2 separate regions of the Homo sapiens genome follow, and region 1 is linked to region 2. The links come from fine-mapping of genetic effects on gene expression. A gene starts in region 2. The other region holds a variant in brackets. All regions are shown on one strand. Distances are from middle to middle.

Region 1 (13,281 bases), 200 kb after region 2:
TTTCTCTTATGATCGGGTTTAAAGTTTTCTCACCCTCCACCAGTTGCTTCTAAGTATGCCCTGACCTGTCAATTTCTCCTTAATGCATGGCACCATAAAGTGAGCACTGCAATCCAGGATGAGTCGACCCATGAGGAAGCAGGCACTGCCCACCTTATTTTGAACACTTTGTTTCTGTTATAAAACCAAAGATCCCAAGAAGTTTTTTGAAAGATGCGTAATCCTTTTGTCTGGCAGGGATTTTTGACAAGTAAATTTCCTAAATCTTTCCTCATGTGTTACCTCTGAACTCAGTCACTTTCGACTTATCTCATATGTATACACTTGAGTGTTAGAAGACTAAAGAGCAGGATTTTATATTTATCTCTTTTAAATTTTATCTTGTCTAATTCAGTAAATGTTTAGCAAAGTGCATCAAAGTATTCTGGAAGCTCAATTTCTCATCCAACGTTAATAGTTGTCCCTCCCAGCCTCGTGCCACTCATGGGTTTATTTATCATGATCTCAAAGGCCTATCCAAGTCTCTGGTTTCCATATGGACAGGAGCAGGAGACCAAAGACTAGCAGCTCCTCCTATCTGATGCTGATTTAGGTTGATCAATGAATCAATGCTCTTTAGCTTTAAAGCATTCAACCAATTGTCAATTCAGCAGATTAAAATGAAATTCAGCCCATATTTCTCCATCTTGGCAATTTGAATATCAGGCAATTTTTTAAGAAACTTGCTGAAACCTAGATACTCTTCTTATGCATAGCATTCTTAGATATTTTCCACTCTACCTCATGACAACTATTGCAGAGAGACAGATTTTGGCTTAACAAAGCTGCTTGGGGCTGGAATACACCTGCTTCAGGTGGTGAGGTCTGTCATTGAAGGTTGAAAACATCTGGCTGGAATAAAATAGGAAATAAATAGGAATAAAATAGGAAAGATTTGGGTATCAAACAAGAGATTGAATTCTGTATCTGTATAGTGACTTGAGACTCTGAACATTTTTGACTATAAATGATGCTTCATGGGTGTTGAGTAAGTCAAATGGTAGCTTCGGGTAAGATTTGATTCAAGGATCAATGATGTCATCATGATCCCTTTCTGTTCTTCTTTTGTGTGCCAGAGTGGTTCTCAGGCTGTCTCCCCTTACTGTAGTCAGTTGGCTACAGCACCTTACTGAGCCCAGAGGAGAGGAGAATGTCTATAGTCTAGCATGCCTTGCAAACATATTAAGACTTGCACTGATTTAGACTGGATTAGGTCATGTGTCTATCCTGCAACAATCACTGTGGCCACAGAGATGAGACATGCTGTTCTGGTTATCTATTGCAACATAACAAATCACTTATCTCCCATGGTTTCTGTGGGTTAGGAATTTGAGTAAGCTCAGCTAGGTGACTTTTCCTGGGGCCCCTCATGGATTTGCAGTCAGATGGTGGTTGGGGCTAGAACAGTGGTGGGGAAGAGGAGTCGATGGTGCTAGGAGCTACCTGGCCATCTTTTTTTCCTTAAGGCAGTCTTGAGGCCTCTCTATGTGGTCTCTCCAATTGTGCCAGTTTGGGCTTCCCCACAATATGGAGGCCTCCGGGCCATGAGACTGCTTGCATACAGTGTCCCAGGAGAATAAGGTGTAAGTTTTTGGCATTTCTGTGGTCTAAACTCAGAAATCACATAATGTCTCTTCTGCCCTACTCTATTGGTTGAAACAGTCACAAAAACCCACCCATATTCAAAGGTAGGGTACATAGACTCTATCTCTTGATGGAAGAGGGGCAAGATTCTAGAAGAAACTTCTAGAAGAACAGTCATCCTTGGAAAATATAATCTTTCACATATGCTAATGGGCTTAATCCAATCAAAACGTGGCCCTAAGCTAAAAGCCCAAAAACAATATCCCAAAGTAAGCCTGGTTGATTGGGCATGGTGGCTCACACCTGTAATCCCAGCATTTTGGGAGGCTGAGGCAGGAGGATCGCTTGAGCCCAGGAGTTCAGGACTAGCCTGGGCAATATACTGAGACCCCATCTTTTTAAAAATTTTTAAAAAATATATCAAAGTAATCCAGGCTGTTATAGATGGGAGAAGAGGGGTGTAGATGGCAGAGAACAATCCCTCCTTCTATGTGAATGGGGACCAAAGCACAGGTGCAGAGGGATGAGGTCACTGTATTCTACCTACTTTAATTTTTTAATACAGATTTCTAAAACTACTTTATCATATGACAGATTTTGCCAAGAACTTATATTTACAACCAAAACTAAACACAACAGTGTTTGATTTTTTAAAAAGAAAACATTAAGTTACACATCATTAACTTAGATCTGCCAATGGAGAATCCATCTTGATGCATTAGGCTGAGTTTTCTTTGTGCTGGTTATAAACCGATTAATGGTATTAACAAAGGTGGGGGATCAAGGAACTATTTTAAGGGGATGAACAACTAGCTTTAATGTTGCTGAAGAGAAAAGGTGCTAATTATAAATATTTCTGAGAATCTGTTCATTAAACACTTTTGAGATTACAAAAGTTATTTCTTGTCTGCATTCTGTTATAAAAGTTTTAAATTCAAGTAAGAATTCAGTAAATACAGATAAAATGTGTACAGAATAAGGCTTATTTCTTTAAAAATAGTCAATAAATCAATATTTTTGTGGTTTTGTCAAAGTGACATTGACTTACTCCTAATTAGGATCAGGCTTTATATATTGTTTTTAATTGGGAGAAATATGTACCAAAATAAATATGAGATTTATTATTATAAATTCATATTTAAAAGGTAAAAAACTGCTGTGTGTCTGTGGCATTGCTGTTTTAAAGATTTCCTTGCATCCCCCCAAGAATGGCAGATAGTGTAATTACAGTATTCCTGCTGTGAACTTTTCTTTGTTTTCTAAATACAGTAAGTGTATCCGAAAACTTATTAAAATGAAATCCCCCTACCCTCTCACTCTTCGTGACTGTCAGCTTCCGATAAGCCCATACTGATGGTACTGATGGCGGCCAATTGCCCCTTGGCATTTGCTTTATTATAATTGCCCAATGGGTTCATCCTGCCTGCTGCACAGATAAAACCAATCTTCTGAGACAGCAGTATTACAGTAGAGAAAGAGTTTAATTATCACAGGACTAGCCAAGTGGCAAATGGGAGTTTATGACTCAAATCAGTCTCCCTGAGAATTCAGAGGCTAGGGTTTCTCAAGGCAGGGGACTAGGGAATGGGGAATGCTGATTGGTTGGGTTAGGGATAAAATCATAGCTGTCTTCTTACACTCTGTCAGTTCCTGGGTGGGATTGCAAGGTCAGATGAGCCAGTTTCATGGTATGGGGTACCAGTCCAGGTGGCACCAGCTTGTTCATTGGAATGCAGTCTGAAAAATACCTCAAGTACCAATCTTAGATTTTGCAATGGTGATGTCACCTATAGGAGCAAATGGGGAAGTTACAAAGCTTGTGACCTCTGGCTACAAGGCTCCTGAACCATAATTCTAATCTTGTGGCTAATTTGTTAGTCTTGCAAAGACATATTTGGTCCCTGAGCCAGGACGTAGTTAGTTTCAAGAAGAGACTGTTATCATCTTTGCTTTAAAGTTAAACTAAATTCCTCCCACAGTTGGCTTGGCCTATGCCCAGAAACAAACAAGGACAGCTTGGAGGTTAGAAGCAAGGTGGAGTCAGGTCGGATTTCTTTCATTGTCATAATTTTTCTATGTCAGATTTTTCTCACTGTCATAGTCTTTGCAAAAGCAGTTTCATTGAACTCCATTCTGCTCATGGAACAGTAGCTGCCAAGACTGGAGCTGGGGTGTTAAATGCGTGGAAAGACACTCAGCCTATGCCTCCCTCTACCCGCCAACACCCACAGCCTGCCTGTCAACAGCCCCATGCTCAATCATCCTAGGAATCTGCTCTACTGCTCTACTGTTTGGCGGTGGCTCTAGATTACTGAAGCTTTCTTCTCTCAAATGCTTGCTGTGCCAACAGTGTGTTTAACAAGGAACAGCTAAGACATTGAGTGTTCAAACAATGGTCAATTGTTGGGTCTGTATGAATTCAAGCAGCAGACTTGCCTGATTGCTTCATTTTTCTTTTTACCAGTTTGACTAACACCGCCTATTATTTTAACATTAGGTAGACTTTTTTAGTCACAAAAACCTACTCTCCATTTTTTAATGCCTTGCTAGATATACTTATTGTTGAATGTATGGTTTCTCTGCCTGTTAGCAGTGTTTTACCAGCTTTTGCCAACACAGCTTGTGCCCTATCTGCAGAGGACAAAGAAATGCAGAGGCCTAGAGAACAAGTCCATGCTCTCCCGTTCCCTGTTCAATGTCACAAGAGAGGCGCTCCCACACACCCTGTTGCACTGGAATGGACACAGAACCCTCAAGCTGTCAACAGTGACTTCCCACCCTGGGACCCCCTTCCCTCTCCCCTCTTCTGGCCTCCCCAGTCACTTCCAAGTTCCCATTTCTTCCACTTCTTCCAAATAATGCCTGCCCATCTTCACAGTGAGCACCTGGACACCACACTCACCTTCTCACCAGAAGTGCGAGTATCTCAGAGAGCGTTTCAAGGCAAGCCAAGGGGCAGAGCAACAGTGACTCTGGTGGCTAGTCCAAAGGCAGTGGAAAGTGGCCACTTCCCTGGGAGCCATAAGAAGGACCTTACAGTCTCACTTGGGCCCCATGAAGCTCTGGAGTATCATTCAAGGACTCCACATTTAGATTCTCCAAATGGCCAGAAATGTGCTGATTAACAGTTCACGAGGAACCACGTGGGTGCCGTAGGGTGCTGAAGGTTGCATGGCTGCGAGAAGATGTTCAAATATACCTGATAGGTGCTTCCTGCCCCATCCCACAGTATTAACCACGTGTTTCTGAAATTTTGACACCTAGATCCTCACTGACACTGGAGGGACTGCTCCCCCCAGGGCTAGTCAAGTCCTAGAGACAGCAAATGACTCCCCCATGAGTGTGCCCTTCATGTGCAAACCACACAGTCCAGAGCCCACATGCAGACCCTGTCTCCTCTAGCAGGCTCTGCCATGCTGGGCCTCTATTCCCCTGCCGTAATCACCCCAGGGCCAGGTGCCAGACAACTGGAAACAGCCCCTATGCCCCAGACCCAACAGAAATTATTCACACTAGCCGGTCCTAAGCCTGCTCATCCTATCTCCCCAGTTTCTTCCCTCGGAAACCTCGGCCGAGGCTCTTGCCTGTGTTTCCTCTAGCTTCTCTGCCACCTGCCCAACCCTGGTGCTTCCGCATGGGGCCCTGAGCATCATAGTGTGACCCTCCTCTCGGGAACTGAGTGACAATGGCAATCGTCTCATCTGTTGGCTTCACCGCACCTGAAAACCTACAATTTACACCACCAACCCCACTTTCTGCCAGAAAAATCTGTCCTAACCAGCTCCTCTGGCTGGGTTTATACATATTCTTATCACAGCTGCCAAGATCATGGTCACCAACAGGTCTTATCTGTGCAAAGGGGATAATGATAGAGCGAGGATGGTATGAAGAGCACGCTAGGCACACGCAGTGAGCTCTCAGCCCGGGTCTGGCGCTGGGAGGTGCTTGGTGCATCTCAGCTCTGATTACGATGATGACAAACTGTGCACCTCAAGGCCTCCAGGTCACCTCTGAGTGCCAGACACTTCCCATTCCAGCCCCTGTGCATTATCCTGAGCAATGCTTGTCTGCCTGTTAACACCAGCTCTGCAGATGAGAAGCCTCTCAAAACCCTTCCCCTGCACACCTCAGCAGGAGCAGCTGCTGCAGCGACACTGGGAACCCTCGAGTCTGAAGCCGGTGGGGAAGGGGCTCAGAATCTGCTTACCTGAGAGCTCAGGGAGCCTCCAGAGAGATGATTCACCTCACCTGGAGAGAGACAGCCAGAAAGGGCTGCTTACCCAGCAGCCGCTCCTCTGCCGTGCAGGAGAAACAGCAATTCTTTCCCTTAGATTTGTCTCTGGCCCAGAACCACC[T/C]CCATCTGATTCCTGAGGAGAGACGGAGGTGGGAACGGGGGTTTAGGGGTTATGGTTGAAGCTGAATGAGCTTCTTTCTCTTAAAACTCCAAACATCAACATTCAAGGCAGTACAGCTGACGGAACACAAAAGAACATCAACAAATATTGGACTCCAGTTAATGACATGTGTGGGAACAAAGGCACTGATGTTTGCAGCTGACTTTGAAAAGTCTAAAAACAATAAGCTGGATGGATGGGTAGCTGCACAGATATGTGGAAAGGAAAGAGAGCTGACGGCCAACAGCTGCGATGTATCTAGATGTGGCTATGTGAACCACCGTATAATTCTTTACATTCTTCTGTATGTGTAAAATATTGGGGACAAAAGGGACCAGAGACATCTTCCTTCTTCAGCATGGAAGGCAGAGTGGCCCTAGTATCCCGGGCATTCCAGGCCTCCGCAGCAGGAATGGAGGCAGATGGCAGCCAAGCAGCTGGGGAGCCGGGCAGTGGCAGGGGCACCTGGCAAAAGGGGCTTCGCTGCGGAGCACCCGAATCAGTGCAGGGCATCTTGGAGAGCTTCACAGGAGGGGAGCCCCCACTGCCGAGCAAAAGAGGGAGAAAATGTTGGGGCCACACAGTGCAGGGTGGACTTGCTCAAGAGCCCCCTGGAGACCCATCCCAGGACTTATCTGAAGACACTTTGCAGATGTCTTGACCCCTGCATTAAGAGACCCAGTGGAACACTGGTTATAGCTAGAAATGCACATATTTCCCAAAATTACTCTACAGATTTGTTTCCATCAGGAAATTTCAAATCCTCAAGTATAATTATATTTGACTTTTTTGAGATGAATCTTCTTTTTGTAAAGTATCACTTCCTCTGGAACAGCAGGGTTATTATTTAACAAGTTTAGCAAAAAACAAACAAAAAAAAACATTTCAAATAGAACGTAATCAAAGTTCTCTCCCTGATCCATCCCAATTGTATACTTCATCTTTTCAATGATGAATTGGATTCCTGTCTATGAAGCCCAGAATCCATTAAACTCCCCAAACTGGGTCTTAGTCACAGCACAACTGAGAAGCCATGTTTCAAACATGGAAGTGAGAATGAAGGACTTGACTTGCCAAATTACTGCCACACAAGCCCGATTTTCTCTACTAGCGGAGGCAGACCAATGGGAAGTGAACACCGAGGTCCATTTGTGAGTGAGCTCCCAATCCATGAGCAAAATAGTTTTGAAAACTTTAGGGAAACATTTGAATATTTTCCAGATATTAAGGACTCTTCCAACTTCTTTATTCAAATCCAAGTATGAATGACTCAAAAACATTAATTGAATCTTCCCACATGGACCAAGTTTTTTAATGAACATAAAAAAGTATGACTGATTGACATGCAAAAACTAGATGCAAAGATACAGAAGACTAATTTCTTACATCTCTCATGGACAAGATACTTATATCTTAATTACTTTGATTCTGTTCATTTGTAATAGGTCTCCTAAACTATTCACCAGCCAGCAATTTCTTATTTTGCAAATGCTGTCAGCCATCACTGGGGCTGGGTGGTATCAATAGGACAGAATGGTGGAGGGAACTCAACCGACACACAGGTTCTTTCCAGCTGGGTGTGCAGGATCAGGCTGATGCAGGTTGTGCTCTCAACTTTCACATAAATCACTGCAGAGGTGGCTGGGGCTCAGAGACCAGACAGACACATGGTGAGAGGAAATGCAAAGGAGATGTCGGCAAACAGGACAGCATCCTGAGCACCTGGCAATAGAAAGTGCCAGCTGGTAGGGACAGGGGCTCCCAGAGGCCAGGCAGGAACATGCTCAAGGGAACATGACAAGGATTCCTGCAGAGATTGAGTCACAAAGACCCAGCAGAGCACAGTCGCTCTGTGCTCAGAGTAGGAAGCTGAAAGCGGTCCTGAGTTAACATCATGAAATCCCCCCTTGGGAGACAGAACCAGCCTCAGAGGCTGGGGGCAAGGCTGACCCTAGTGGTAACCCATGGTGGGGTCACAAAGGCTATGACAGGAGCCTGTGCATCAGATATTGTATTAGTCTGTTCTCATACTACTGTAAAGAAATACCTGAAACTGGGTAATTTATAAAGAAAAGAGGTCAAATTGGCTCACGATTCTGCAGGCTGTACAGGAAGCATGACTGGGGAGGCCTTGGGAAACTTTCAGTAATGGCAGAAGGGAAGCAGCACATCTTACATGGCTGGAGCAGAAGAAAGAGAGCTAAGGGGGAAGTGCTACACACATTTAAACAACTAGATCTCTTGAGAACTCACTCACTATCATGAGAACAGCAAGAAGGAACTCTGCCTCCATGATCCAATCACCTCCCATCAGGCCCCTCCTCCAACACTGGGGATTACACTTTAACATGAGACTTGGGCAGGGACACAAATCCAAACCATATCAGATACCAAGTCAAAGCTTTGGGGAAACAGGGGATCAAGTATGACCCTATCCGAACAGGAGTGTCCTGAAAACAGTATGTGTAGTTGTTTAAAATTAATTCTCTTAAAATTCAGCATGAAATGAGGTTAAATGAATAACTGTGGCTTACCGTAAAGAAGAAATGCTAGCAGGTTGGAGCTCACAAACTTCACCCCATGCCACATTTCAGTGGGCTGAGCACAGTGTAGGCCCTTGGTGTTTGCTGGTTAGTTCTGAAGCAGGCTTCTCCAGGAGCAGAGTCAGTGGTCAACATCCATGATGAGAAATGAGGCACTAATTATCTCACTAATGGTGAGACTCTGTCACCCTCACCCCACCCTCCCCTCAATCCAACATCAGTTTGGCATCGATGTTCAAACTCTCACAATTAAAGATTAATTCCTTTGACTTTAAGCTTTATCCGCTATTGCAATACTAACTACTGTAACGTTAGTAATGGTCCTTTACCACTGAGTAGACATGAATCCCTAAAAGCCTTCCTTGAGAACATTTTGATCGAGGAAAAGAAGCAGAGAGTGTAAAAATATTAGGAAACTGGTATGGCACCAAGAGGCATGTGTGCTACAGAGAAAGTCCCAGGGAGGGGGCCCAGGAGGCAGGATTCACCACCTCATGTTTTATCTAAGACCTTCTTTACTGGATATCTCACTTGATTTAAGAACAGAGCTAATGAACTCATACAGAGCATGAAAAAAGGTTCTTTTCCAGCACATTCACTTCTTTTTCCCCTTAACCCAGGCCAGAAACAATTTAAAAGATTTTGGCAAGAAATGAATGACTGTGCATAGCCAACCATCTCCCCTGGAAGGATAACTCAAAGGACAGTGCCTGCTGAGGGGTGTCAGGGTCTCAACTTCAAAGCCGAGTTGAGCCAGATGGGAGGGGCTGCCTCAGTATCCCTGAGGGGTCAATAGGGGAGCTGACCCTGCAGGGTACTGCCTGGGGTCACAGAACCCAGGATCTATGGCTGGACTTGAAAGCAGAATTGACTTTTGAGGCTAGGTAAAACTGAACTTTAGTCCAAGAAAGAGATGAATGTTGGGTCTGGGGAATGGAGCAAACGTCAAGAAGAGAGGCAGATAAATCGCACTGGTGCAGAAATAATGAAAGCAGGCATTCATCAAACACCCACTGAGGCCTGGGCTCAGCGAGCTACCCACCAGGCAGTCTTCAAAGTGCCTTAGGTATATCATTTATTTGAAGTCTCAAACAACTCCAGGAGGTGTTAACTACTGCTATCTTGATTTTATGGATAAGAAAGCTGAGGCTGAGAAGCTAAATGATTTAGTCAATTTGTTAGTAAAATTGCTAGTTAGTAAAAAGTTGAGATAGTGTTCCAAGCTAGGAGTAAAAGGTTTTATATAAATGAGAACGCACGATTTATTACTCTCTGAAAACTTCCTCTAGTGGCTGTTAGGAAAATATTATCAAAGGATTATGATTCCTTCTTTTCCAGAGAACTCTTGCTCTGAAGCCAACCTGTAAGGCGTCTCATTTGAGCCTGCAAATCTGGAAAAATCCTATTCTGGGTAATCCATTCACAGAAAACATCAAGGAACCAAAGCTTCTTATGTATGGACCTTAGATTTCCCCAACACCAGTGGGCAGTGCAGGGGTACATTCATGGCAGAGGCGGCCACAACTCCCATCCCCACTCCTCGGAGCTCTGGCCTCCAAGGGAAAAACACCTTTTGCTTGTGTGTGAAGTTTAGAAAGAGGTTAGTTTCTGAGTCCCACTGACCCCCAAAACTGGTTTCTTCTGAGACCCTAGGCATCAGGTTAATGTTATCAAACCTATGGAGAAAAAAGAATATAGATTTTGAGAGAAAAGTAGATAAATGTTCCGTTCATCCATTACTTAAAAAACAAAACAAAACACTACTGTACCTTGAAGAACTGCACATCCACTTTGTGTCTGGCATTTGCATTTTCACATTTCATTAGGGATGACTTGGCAGGAAGCAACCCACTCCTACGCACACAGGCTTGAGCAAATGGGGCACAAGGGAATCTCTCAGAACCAAAGGCAGGAAATTGAGTTGGGACACTCTCTCCATTCCCAGTCTCTGGCTGCAGTCAGGCAGCCTCTCTAGGCTTCTCTCTGCACACCTGCTCTATGGACCCCCTTGATGTCCACTCAGAGTTCCAACTCCCTCTTAGCTTCCGTTCCCGTGTGACTTTGGCTCATTGGGGTTCTGACACTGGCCTCGGCTCTACATGATCTGAAAAATCCAAGGCTCAACTACCTGACTTCAATTTCTGGGCTTCTTCATTTATAATCTCAAGAGTGAGTTAAACACGCTCACATGAGCCATTGGGGTCAGGCAGCTACTTCTGGTCCCCTCAGCTAAGGAAGAGTAGGGAGATAAAACTACTTAATATATTCTCCACCACCTAAGACCAGCCCTGCAACTGGGCTATGGGCAATTCCAAGTGGGAGGTGTGGCTGGCAAGTTTCTACAAGTGGGAGCTGTGGCTGGCAAGGTTCTAATTCTATTAGGTGGGCATTATTATTCTCATTTTGCATATGAGGCGAGAGGCTAAAAAAAATGTATTCACCATCACAGTATTAGTAGGTGTAGAAATGGAGTTTGAATTTAGGTTGGTTTGTATCTGTGACCTATTGCAGTGTAATAAACTCGCCCAATACTTGGTGGCTTAAAGTGAAACCCGCCCCATTTACTTGCAGTTCTGTGGGTTGGCTGGGCAGGGCTCGGCGAGGATGCTCAGCCCAGTTTCATGCATGTTGCACGTGTTCTCTCCTCTGGAAGACCCCAGATGGCCTCTCTCAGATGTCTGCCCTCCGCAGAGCCTCTCTCTACTCATGGTCTTTCATCTTCCAAGGCTTCTCTTTGCTTGTGGAGGCTCATTCTTAGGGTCCCTCTTTCTTGACATGGTTTCTCCAGCCAGCCCAGTCTGGAGGGGAAGGGCAATGAACTCTACCTGTGGATAGGAGTAGAGACAAAGTCACATGTCAAAAGGGCATCGGGACTGGCCAGGATTGTAGCAGCCATCTTGGGAAACAACCTCCACAGAATCCAAACCCATGCCTGTTATGCAATGCCAACACCCCCAAGGGCCTTCTGAGATCTTTGGAACGTCTTCCAAAGGCGGCCTGAATCCCAGACTACAACTCAGGGCTGAACATGACCTCTTTGACCAGCTTGGTGTCCTCTTTGAGCCGGCACTAAGTTAAACCAGGGGAATACACAAGTGAGTCAGGCACGGCCCCTGCCTTCCCAGAGATGTAGTCTCCTGAGAGAAGGACTCGATGCAGACAAGTTAGATCAGGCTCAATCCCCTCTGGAGGACAAGAACTTTCAATGCAGGAAGCATAAAGATTGCCAATTAGTCTGAGTCTATGAAGTACCTTCTTTTTCTTGGCAATGTGTTAGACTGCGCTACTCAAAGACCTTAGAAATAAACCTTTAAACTAGGTAGTTGCTAAATTCATAAGTTTTTAAAATGTAACATGATGTTTTTTAAGAAAAAAACATACCATCTCTACCTCATAAGCTGGAAACTCAGCCAGAAACAGAGGAGAGGGGTAGACAGCAGGCACAGACAGATGGGGATGCGTGCTCCTTCTATCAATGGCAGATGCCAAAAAGCCAAACACAAGGAAACCCAGGAGGAACCCACTGTGCTTTGACAGTGTCAGGTGGTAGGAGCCAGTCCCAGGGAGGGCAAAGTTCCCAGGGTGCTCACCCTGCTGAGCCTAGATCCTGTCATTGACGACAGCAAAGAGACGTTGACACTCATGCATCTCAGCAAGGCCATGGCTCGGTGCCTCCTCCATCCTTCTCAGACCTGATCTGAGATGGGTCTATCATTTATTTTAATTCTCAAACAACTCCAGGAGGTGTTAACTCCCTGCAGTCCACCATGGGGCCCCAGCATGTGACATTTTTCTGCCCTTGGATAAGCCTGCTTGTCCTTGAAAGCCTGGCTGCTTTCCTCAACCTGCCCGCTACTTTGCCAAGGTGAACCCAAGACTCACCTCCAGCTTGCTATTTATCCCCCATCCATTACTGAGGGCCTCCCATGAGCCATGCATAGAGCTACTCCAGAGGCACTAAAATACCAAGGTATTTCACTCCGGAAGCCCACAGCCTAGCAGCAAGGACAGAAATATACATTTTTATGTGGAAACCAAAGAATATCTAAAAGCTTGCCATTTAGCAACCAGTCATTTCTTGTTTCATTTACAATTTTTGGACTTGATTTTTTTTTTCTGTTTATGTGTGTGCACACACTGTGTTTTCAGAGGTTTTTGTAGGTGGTAAATCATACTGGGAGGTTCAGGAGCCGTGTCACTTGCAGAGGTGTCACTTGCAGAGGTGTCTGAGGGGCTGATCTTCGTGCTGCAGCCAAAAATACCGTAAATAAATAATAAGCCCCACCAGATGTTAGAAACCAGGCTGGGAGGTGTGACGAGACTTCATAGCCACTGGGGTTTGAAGATCTTATCTGATGCTGATGGCTTTTGCCAAAGGGCTCCATCATTTGCAAGGAGGGGTGGGGATACTTTATATGAGGAATCTGGCTTTGCCGAAGCTTTCCAGGTCTAATTACACAGCTCCGGCTGTGTTTAAGGGAGGGGATCCTGGGAAGGAAGCTAGGCATAGGGTGAATCATTCTTGAGCTCTGAATCGGATTCCTATAAGGGCAACCTGCTACTGCCGTAGCTGCACAAACATGCCTCTCACCTGAACGAATCCTAATTTGATATTTTATTCCTAAAAGAATAAACTAGGAGCCAGTATTTTCTTGTGTGTGATTGACCTGAGAAAATGCATTTTCTCCAATGTGCCTTTCATTCTTTCCATGCTGCTCTGT
Region 2 (8,000 bases):
TCGTTTTTCATTTGCCTTGACTGGTTAGGAAGGTCAAATGAATGCATGGCCCAACCATAGCAATTATAGACCCAATGGATGGCCGTTCAAAGGAACTTATATTTTCCCTGTCCTGGTAGCTTCATTTTATTTTTAGGTTTTGTTTATTGTTTGATTAAACATTACACATATTTTCTGTAAGTCATCTCAAATCCTTTCTCAAAGGACACAGGGTAAAAATAAACAAACAAAAAACCCTGAATGATACTGGAAATTTTTATTAGATCATCTTTTGAATCTTCCAACAAGTGTTGGACTAAAATTATGTATTAGTATTTCATGTATGTCTAAACAGCTTTAATTGCTTGGGGTTAAGATAAATGTTTAGGAGGTTTTGGTGGGTTGAGGGTAACAGAACACTTTACAATATTCAGGAATTTAAAGTACTTTTTCTAAGAATAAAAAAATTATTTATACTGTAATTCCCAACCAAAACTTCCCATTTATAATGATAAGGTTTAGGGAAATGTACTAAAAGACTATGACATTTTCAGTCATAGGTGATCTAAAGATGCATGTTATCATTTCTTAAAGGAAGAGAAATTTATAGTAGGAAGAATGCACATTAAAGCAAAATGCTATTGCAAACAATTTTGAATGGAAACAGCATGGGGTAGATTTCAAAATAGAGTTTATATAAATTTTATTTTAATGCCAAAACAATACCCACCAAAGTGGCTTGCTTGCAGGGCTTCCTCCAGTAGCCTGAGTGTCTAAAGCAGTGGTTCTCAAACTTAAGCCAGCTCAGGATCACTGAGGATTTTGTCAAATACAAGTCTCGGGTAGGGCTGGGTGATTTGAGTATCTGACAAGTTCCTATGTGATGCTGAGGCTTCAGGTCCAGGACCATGCTTTGAGAACCACCAGCAAAGAGCACGAGCTTGTTCCTTAATAGAGATAATTATAGCTTTCTTCAAGTTTTACAGTTCCTTAGAATGTGACGTTTTCTGCATGCATACTATATTAGGCAACGTGATTACAAATTATATTGTTTTTGTTACAGCAACTTTGATTTTTAACATTAACAGCAAAATGGAAAGATTTTATGTCTTTAATATGCTAGCAATTCACATTCATTGCAAGAAGTTAAAACAATTCATATTGAAATATATGAAACAGAAAATAAACATTCTTCACCCAAACTACTTCTCAAAGATAACCACTGTTAACCATTTGCGGTATAACCTTCCATAATTTTTTTCTCTGCAGTTTTAAGCTTATATATGCAAATGGATATATCTTTATTTTTGCAAAATAACCAGCCCTGTAATCTGAGTTCACATATACGTAGAACGTATGTAGAATTGTCTGCATAATATTCTACCACATGGATGGGCCACAAATTATTTAATCTCTTCCCTCAACTGAGAGACACATTGTTTCCTTCTTTCCAGCATTAGACACAATGTACTTAATGGTAAAAATATTTTGAACATCTTTTGTGATTTGAGAAACTTAAAACAATTTACATGTTATATGGGTAAGCAATTATAATATGAAAGATGACTGTTTTGTACTTTTTTTTTTTTTTTTTTGAGACGGAGTCTTGCCCTGTCACACAGGCTGGAGTGCAGTGGCGCGATCTCGGCTCACTGCAGGCTCTGCCTCCTGGGTTCACGCCATTCTCCTGCCTCAGCCTCCTGAGTAGCTGGGACTACAAGCGCCCGCCACCGCGCCTGGCTATTTTTTTGTATTTTTAGTAGAGACGGGGTTTCACCGTGGTCTCGATCTCCTGATCTCGTGATCTGCCCGCTTCGGCCTCCCAAAGTGCTGGGATTACAAGCGTGAGCCACCGCGCCCGGCCTGTACTTTACTTTTTAAGACTTTATGAATGATATTGACAAAAAGAATGTCTTCTACTCACATTACGGTTTCCTTCTGTGGAAGCTTCAGGGGTATATACATATATAATTGGACTAATGTGATCATTTCAAAATGTCCAATATATTCTTTAATCTATGTCATGGATTTAGGTTGTGGACCTTGATCGTGGGTTAGTATTGAATGCAGAAGGAAGGTACCTCCAAGATTCACATGGAAATCCTCTTCGGATTAAACTAGGAGGAGATGGTCGAACCATTGTAGGTAAGGGAGAATGGTTTTTAAAGAATAAAAGCCTACTGAATTAGCCATAGAATTACAGCTTCTATCTTCCTTCTCCCCCTCATTTATAATGAATGGTCATGGGTTAGTTACTTTTACCCATGTGAGAAGAAGAGCCTCAAAAGAGGCAGAACTTGGTGTTTCCCCCAGAGAGCGTTAGTTCTCTTCCTGCAGGCTGCACCCTCTAGAAAATGTGGCCCTTTACTTTGTTCTTAAATTGGCCCTTTCAGAGGAGGGGTCCGCAAACTACAACCTGTAGGTTGTAGCCCACTACCTATTTTTGTAAGACCCATGAGCTCAGAATAGTTTTTACATTTTTAAATGATTGCCAGAAAAAAGAATATTTTGTGGCATGGTAATTACGTGAAATGCACATTTCAGTGTCCATACGCAAAGTTTTACTGGAACACAATACACTCACTTAATTATGCACTGTCTAACTCATTTTTTATGTGTTGTTTATGTATTGTCTATCTTCTTTTTTGCACTCTAAAAGCGGATTGAGTAGCTGCAATAGAGACCATACGGCCTATGAGGCTTAACATATTCGCTTCCTGGCCCTTTACAGAAGAAGTTTTCCACCTTTAATCCAAAGTAACACTTTTCCCCCTTAGGCATAGGAATGAGGCAAAGGAAAGTATTTCTTCCTTTGCTAGACACAAGAGTTATCTCAGGATCGTGGAGCATACTGATGCAATATTCATTTATCCCTTTGCCTTTTACTGATTAAAACATGATAATACATAAGCTTTGAGAAGACACTTATTGCTTGCTTTTTATTTTCTCTGGATTGCTTCACCTTGTTGCATAGCTATTGGTTGATTTTGTTTCAGATCTGGAAGGGACCCCCGTGGTGAGTCCTGACGGCCTCCCACTCTTTGGGCAGGGGCGACATGGCACACCTCTGGCCAATGCCCAAGATAAGCCAATTTTGAGTCTTGGAGGAAAGCCGCTGGTGGGCTTGGAGGTCATCAAAAAAACCACCCATCCCCCTACCACTACCATGCAGCCCACCACTACTACGACGCCCCTGCCTACCACTACAACCCCGAGGCCCACCACTGCCACCACCCGCCGCACGACCACCACCCGCCGCACGACCACCAGGCGTCCAACAACCACAGTCCGAACCACTACGCGGACAACCACCACCACCACCCCCACACCCACCACTCCCATCCCCACCTGTCCCCCTGGGACCTTGGAACGGCACGACGATGATGGCAACCTGATAATGAGCTCCAATGGGATCCCAGAGTGCTACGCTGAAGAAGGTAACTGCCTTTGTTCTAATGCTAACTACTTACCAGGCACACTAGCACGCCGCAACTCAGAGCAGGGTGGCAGAGCCTGCAGGGGAGGTATGAGCACCGTGCACAGCAAAGCAGCAACCCGATGCATTTTTGGTCCCAGCAGGTTTGTTTGACAGTACCATGCCACAGCTAAGGTTGGAAGACTTAGCAAATAAAAATATTACATGGGACATATTTATATGAAAAAAATTATTTCCTGTTCACTTAAAGTCAGATTTAACTGGGCATCTTTTGTTTACTTGGTGATGCTTATCACAACCCAAGTCAAGAATTTAGCTGAAACTTGTGACATTATTTGTTTGGACTAGCATTTCCCAAAGTGTGTTCCAATGGATATTGTAGATTAGTGGTTGTAATATATATGTATATACTTAAAAGGTTCTGTGATTAGCTATGTGATTTAAACAAGGTTGGATAAGTTTCTTACTGTTGTAATACTTAGATCACTGAATAGTCTTGTTGAGAATCTCCAAGAAAAGGAATGTTTCCCTAGCATGTTCGGCAGCTGAGCACTTTTTTGATCAGCCCTCCTTTGGAGAATGCCAATCCTCATGTAGCTGGGCTTCCTGTGGGAGTGTGGGCTTTCCACTGGGTAAGAATGCACCATTTTCCCTTCTCTGCTGATCTGCACTATCCTGCCGCCCCTGATGTAAGTCTGTCTTCCTTCTGAAAATGGCTTGTTCTCCCTGAAGAGCAGGAGCTAGGAGACCTTTATCCAGGTCATCGTGGAGCCCGTATATCAATATATCTCCATCTTTTCTGCTCAGTCCCCTGCTCAAGCTGCTTTGGAAGAAGTCATTCTAGATTTGCATCAGGCATGGAGGAGAGAGATTCATCTTCTTTCCCTCAGTTTGAAATGAATTGCAATGTCAATTATAAAGCTTAAGTCTTTTTAAACCAAGGCAGAGTGAAGATGTTTCCTTTCAGGAATCAAGCTGGAATTCTTATGCAACGTTATTGACTATGATAAGCCCAATCAGTTTGAACATGAATACTGTATCCAAAATGGGAATTCTGTTGGAAGTTAGTCTTTCCGTGAAAAAGTTACAAATAAACAGGAAAACTTGACACATCTAAAAAATTCACACCAAAAAAACATGGAAACACGTACAGAGGGAGAGGAACAATGGGAAGAAAATTTCTACTCTGTCCATTGACCCAGTGAGTATAAATTTGAATTTACCTTTGAATTTCTAGTATTGACATCTGACCTCTGCATGCATTAATGTGTTTAATTTTAAAGACTGAAATATAATTAAAACATAATTAGTAATTGGTCGTAAACAAAAATTGACTATTTTGGATTTGATTTTAATTACGGCTGCTATTATTTCACATTTTATTTTGTCTGCTTTTATTTAGGCCTTCCAACATGTTCTCTTCATCTACTTTATATTTTTGGACTTTTATTTGGCATGAAAGTCAATATTTTTCCTGGCATTTTTGCCTCTTATTTTCTTTGCAAATCATAACATATATATGTTCACTCCTGTCCAGTCTCCTGATTCCCTAGTCGAAGCTAAAGAATAATTTTCCTCTGGACAGCATTTGAAAATAAGTACAAATCAATACACAGTCTTATGGAAAAGTTAAATGTGGGGACAGTAACATATCATCCTCATATCGCATTTTAATGCACTATAATTTGTTAGTTTAAAAAGACTTCCATATGCCCTTTCTTATTTCTACTGTTTCACTAACAACTTCATTAAACATTTTCTTCTTTATTAACTGTAATCATAGTTATTTTTATCTTTTAATCTTTTTAAACCACTTTCTTGATGTATGCATAGAAAAAGTTCTGCATATTTAATCCATACATGTCGATGAGTTTGGGATAAGAATACATTCACAAAATCATCATCCCGCTAAGGCCACAGACACATCCATCACCTCCCAAAGTTCCCTCCCACTCCCACTCCTTTATTGTTAGTATTCTTCTTTTTTCTTTCTTTATAGTAAGAGCACTCACCATGAAAGTGGTATTTTTTTGTGATAAGAAATTAAATTTTTACTATTACAAAGATACATGCACATGTATGTTCATTGCAGCACTATTCACAATAGCAAAGAGATGGAGTCAACCCAAATGCCCATCAACGATAGACTAGATAAAGAAAATGTGGTCCATATACACCATGGAATACTATGCAGCCATAAAAGGAATGAGATTATGTGCTTTGCAGGGACATGGATGGAGCTGGAAGCCATTGTCCTCACCAAATTAACACAGGAACAGAAAACTAAACACCGCATGTTGTCACTTGTAAGTGGGAGCTGAACAATGAGAACACATGGACACAGGGAGGTGAACAACATACAGTGGCGCCTGTCAGAGGGTCAGGTAGGGGAAGAGAGAGCATTGGGAAAAATAGCTAATGCATGCAGGGCTTAATACTTAGGTGATGGGTTGATCTGTCCAGCAAACCACCATGGCACATGTTTACCTGTGTAACAAACCTGCACATCCTGCACCTGTACCCCAGAACTTAAAAATAAAAATTAAAAAAAGAAATTAAATTTTAAAAATGTATTAATACTAGCTCTGTTGAGATAAAATTCATATACCATAAAGTTCATTCTTCTAAAGTTAGTGGATGTTAATATATTTACAGTTGTGCAATGATCACCACTATTAGATTCCATAATATTTTCATCACCCCAGGAGAAACTCCGTACTCATTAGCAGTCAGCCCTCATTCCTCCCTCCTCCCAACCCATGGAAACCACTAACATACTTTCTCTCTCTATGGATTTACCTATTTGGGACATTTTGTATAAATGGAATCATGTCATATGTGGCTTTTTGGGTCTGGCTTCTTTCACTTAGCATAATTGTTTTCAAGATTCATTCACATTATAGAATACATCAGTACTTCATTTTTTTTATTCCATTGTATGGATATACAGCATTTTTTCCATTCATCAGTCAGTGGTCATTTGGGTTATTTCCACTTTTTGGTTATTGTGAATAATGCTGCCTTGAACATTTGTTTTGTTTGTTTGGTTTTGTTCTACTTGATCTGACTTCTCTGTTGGATAATAAACTCCTTGCAGTTGAGACAATGTCTTCTGCTTCATCTCTAATTCCTTGTGGTACCTAAGTATGTACCTTTGGATATCCAAGCAAGACCTTAAGGTATAGGCATTTTCCATGTCCTAAAAGCCAGTGCTCTTTTTTTTTTTCAGGTTCTGTATCTACAGCAAATCTGATAATAGATGATATATATGGAATGTGATGAGCCAAATGAACATCTTCAAGAATTTGTAGCATGACCTTGTTAAAAGTTGCAGAAAAACATCAGTCATTATGGAAAACAGATCTTCCCCACCACAGCTGGGTCTCCAGATAGAAAATACTGAGAAATTCAAAAATTCATTTGAGCTGGACCAACTGTACAATGTGCAAATATCCCTGAGTTTCAAATGGCTGTCATTTACCTTCTGTCTCTAAACTTCTACTGAGAATAATTTTTAAAAATATTTTGTAATATCTCTGGAGCAAAAGCCTTACTTCTTTGGTGACATTTTTCACTTATTTTTTTCATGTCTACTTGATAAACTACTGAAGAGAATAAACAAAACGACTATGGTTGATGGCTGGCAACTATGTTTATGTGAAGAGGCTGAAGCTTTTCACATTGGTGCTGAGTTGACTTGTAAAATATCCAGTTTTACATAGTTCTGAATGGTTTAAAATGACATTCAGGTGGGCCAAAGTAAGGTGGTCAACTTTTTTTTTTAATTGTAAATATATTTCATTACATCTGAAAGTTATTTTTACTTGGAGCCAGGATGGTTCTATTTTAGAAAAATTATGCCTATGTTTATTTGGTCTTAAGAAAAAGAACACCAAAATCACCCAGTAGATTGTTTACTTAATGCCAGAGGACTTAACTGTCACTCATCTCAGGAAGTGAACTCATTTGCTGGTAAAAGCATCATTTCTGTGGCCTGCTGCATGCACTGGAGTATTTCAGCACCTCAAGGAGTTACCCATAACACCAGAGTCCATGAAGGAAATGATATACTTTTCCCTTTTCTTGTTCACCCTGTGATGCAAAAACCTTACAATGTATTTATTTTTTATCTGGCGAAAAGCAATAATGAAAAGAAATGACACTGAACTGATAATGAGGAAAAGCAAGACGACATTCCTAAAGGTTAAATTGACAAGGGAAAGAAAATGGTAGGCCAGGAAACAATGGCAAGATAATCCCAAAGTTTACAGGGTGTGAACCTGAAAACTGATTTGAATAAGCTCAGAAGTAATTTGTCTTGGATCCCAGGTATATTGACATTGGAATGACCAAAGGAAAGTTTGTGTTTAATACTTTTTCATGAAATGGCCATTCCACCCCTAAACGGATGGATAATTTACAACTTCTCTCTGCTTAACATTCATTGGCTGCATCAGAACACACCAGAGTCATTGCCTCAAGGGCCATCTCTTGGGCCTCAGAATAGGAGCTGGGGGCTTCTTACTGTGATCCCAGGAGGGCTGGACAGACTACTCGAGGTTGCCATTGCCCTTTGTGGGTGGAG

The links.
Region 1: its variant is fine-mapped to the expression of FNDC1-IT1 in tibial nerve (GTEx, PIP above 0.99).

What each region holds. Positions count from the first base shown.
Region 1 is chr6:159,430,652-159,443,932 of GRCh38, forward strand. No RefSeq gene overlaps it. Among named protein-coding and RNA genes, the nearest start is that of LINC02529, 54 kb to the left of the region's middle. The variant T/C (reference allele first, on the strand shown) is at 5,979.
Region 2 is chr6:159,236,542-159,244,541 of GRCh38, forward strand. It overlaps FNDC1-IT1 (FNDC1 intronic transcript 1), which reads left to right and starts at 4,211. Exons shown (of 2, transcript NR_046831.1): 1 at 4,211-4,616; 2 at 6,645-6,788. It overlaps FNDC1 (fibronectin type III domain containing 1), which reads left to right. Exons shown (of 23, transcript NM_032532.3): 13 at 2,013-2,124; 14 at 2,976-3,416. RefSeq lists a silencer at 1,603-1,787.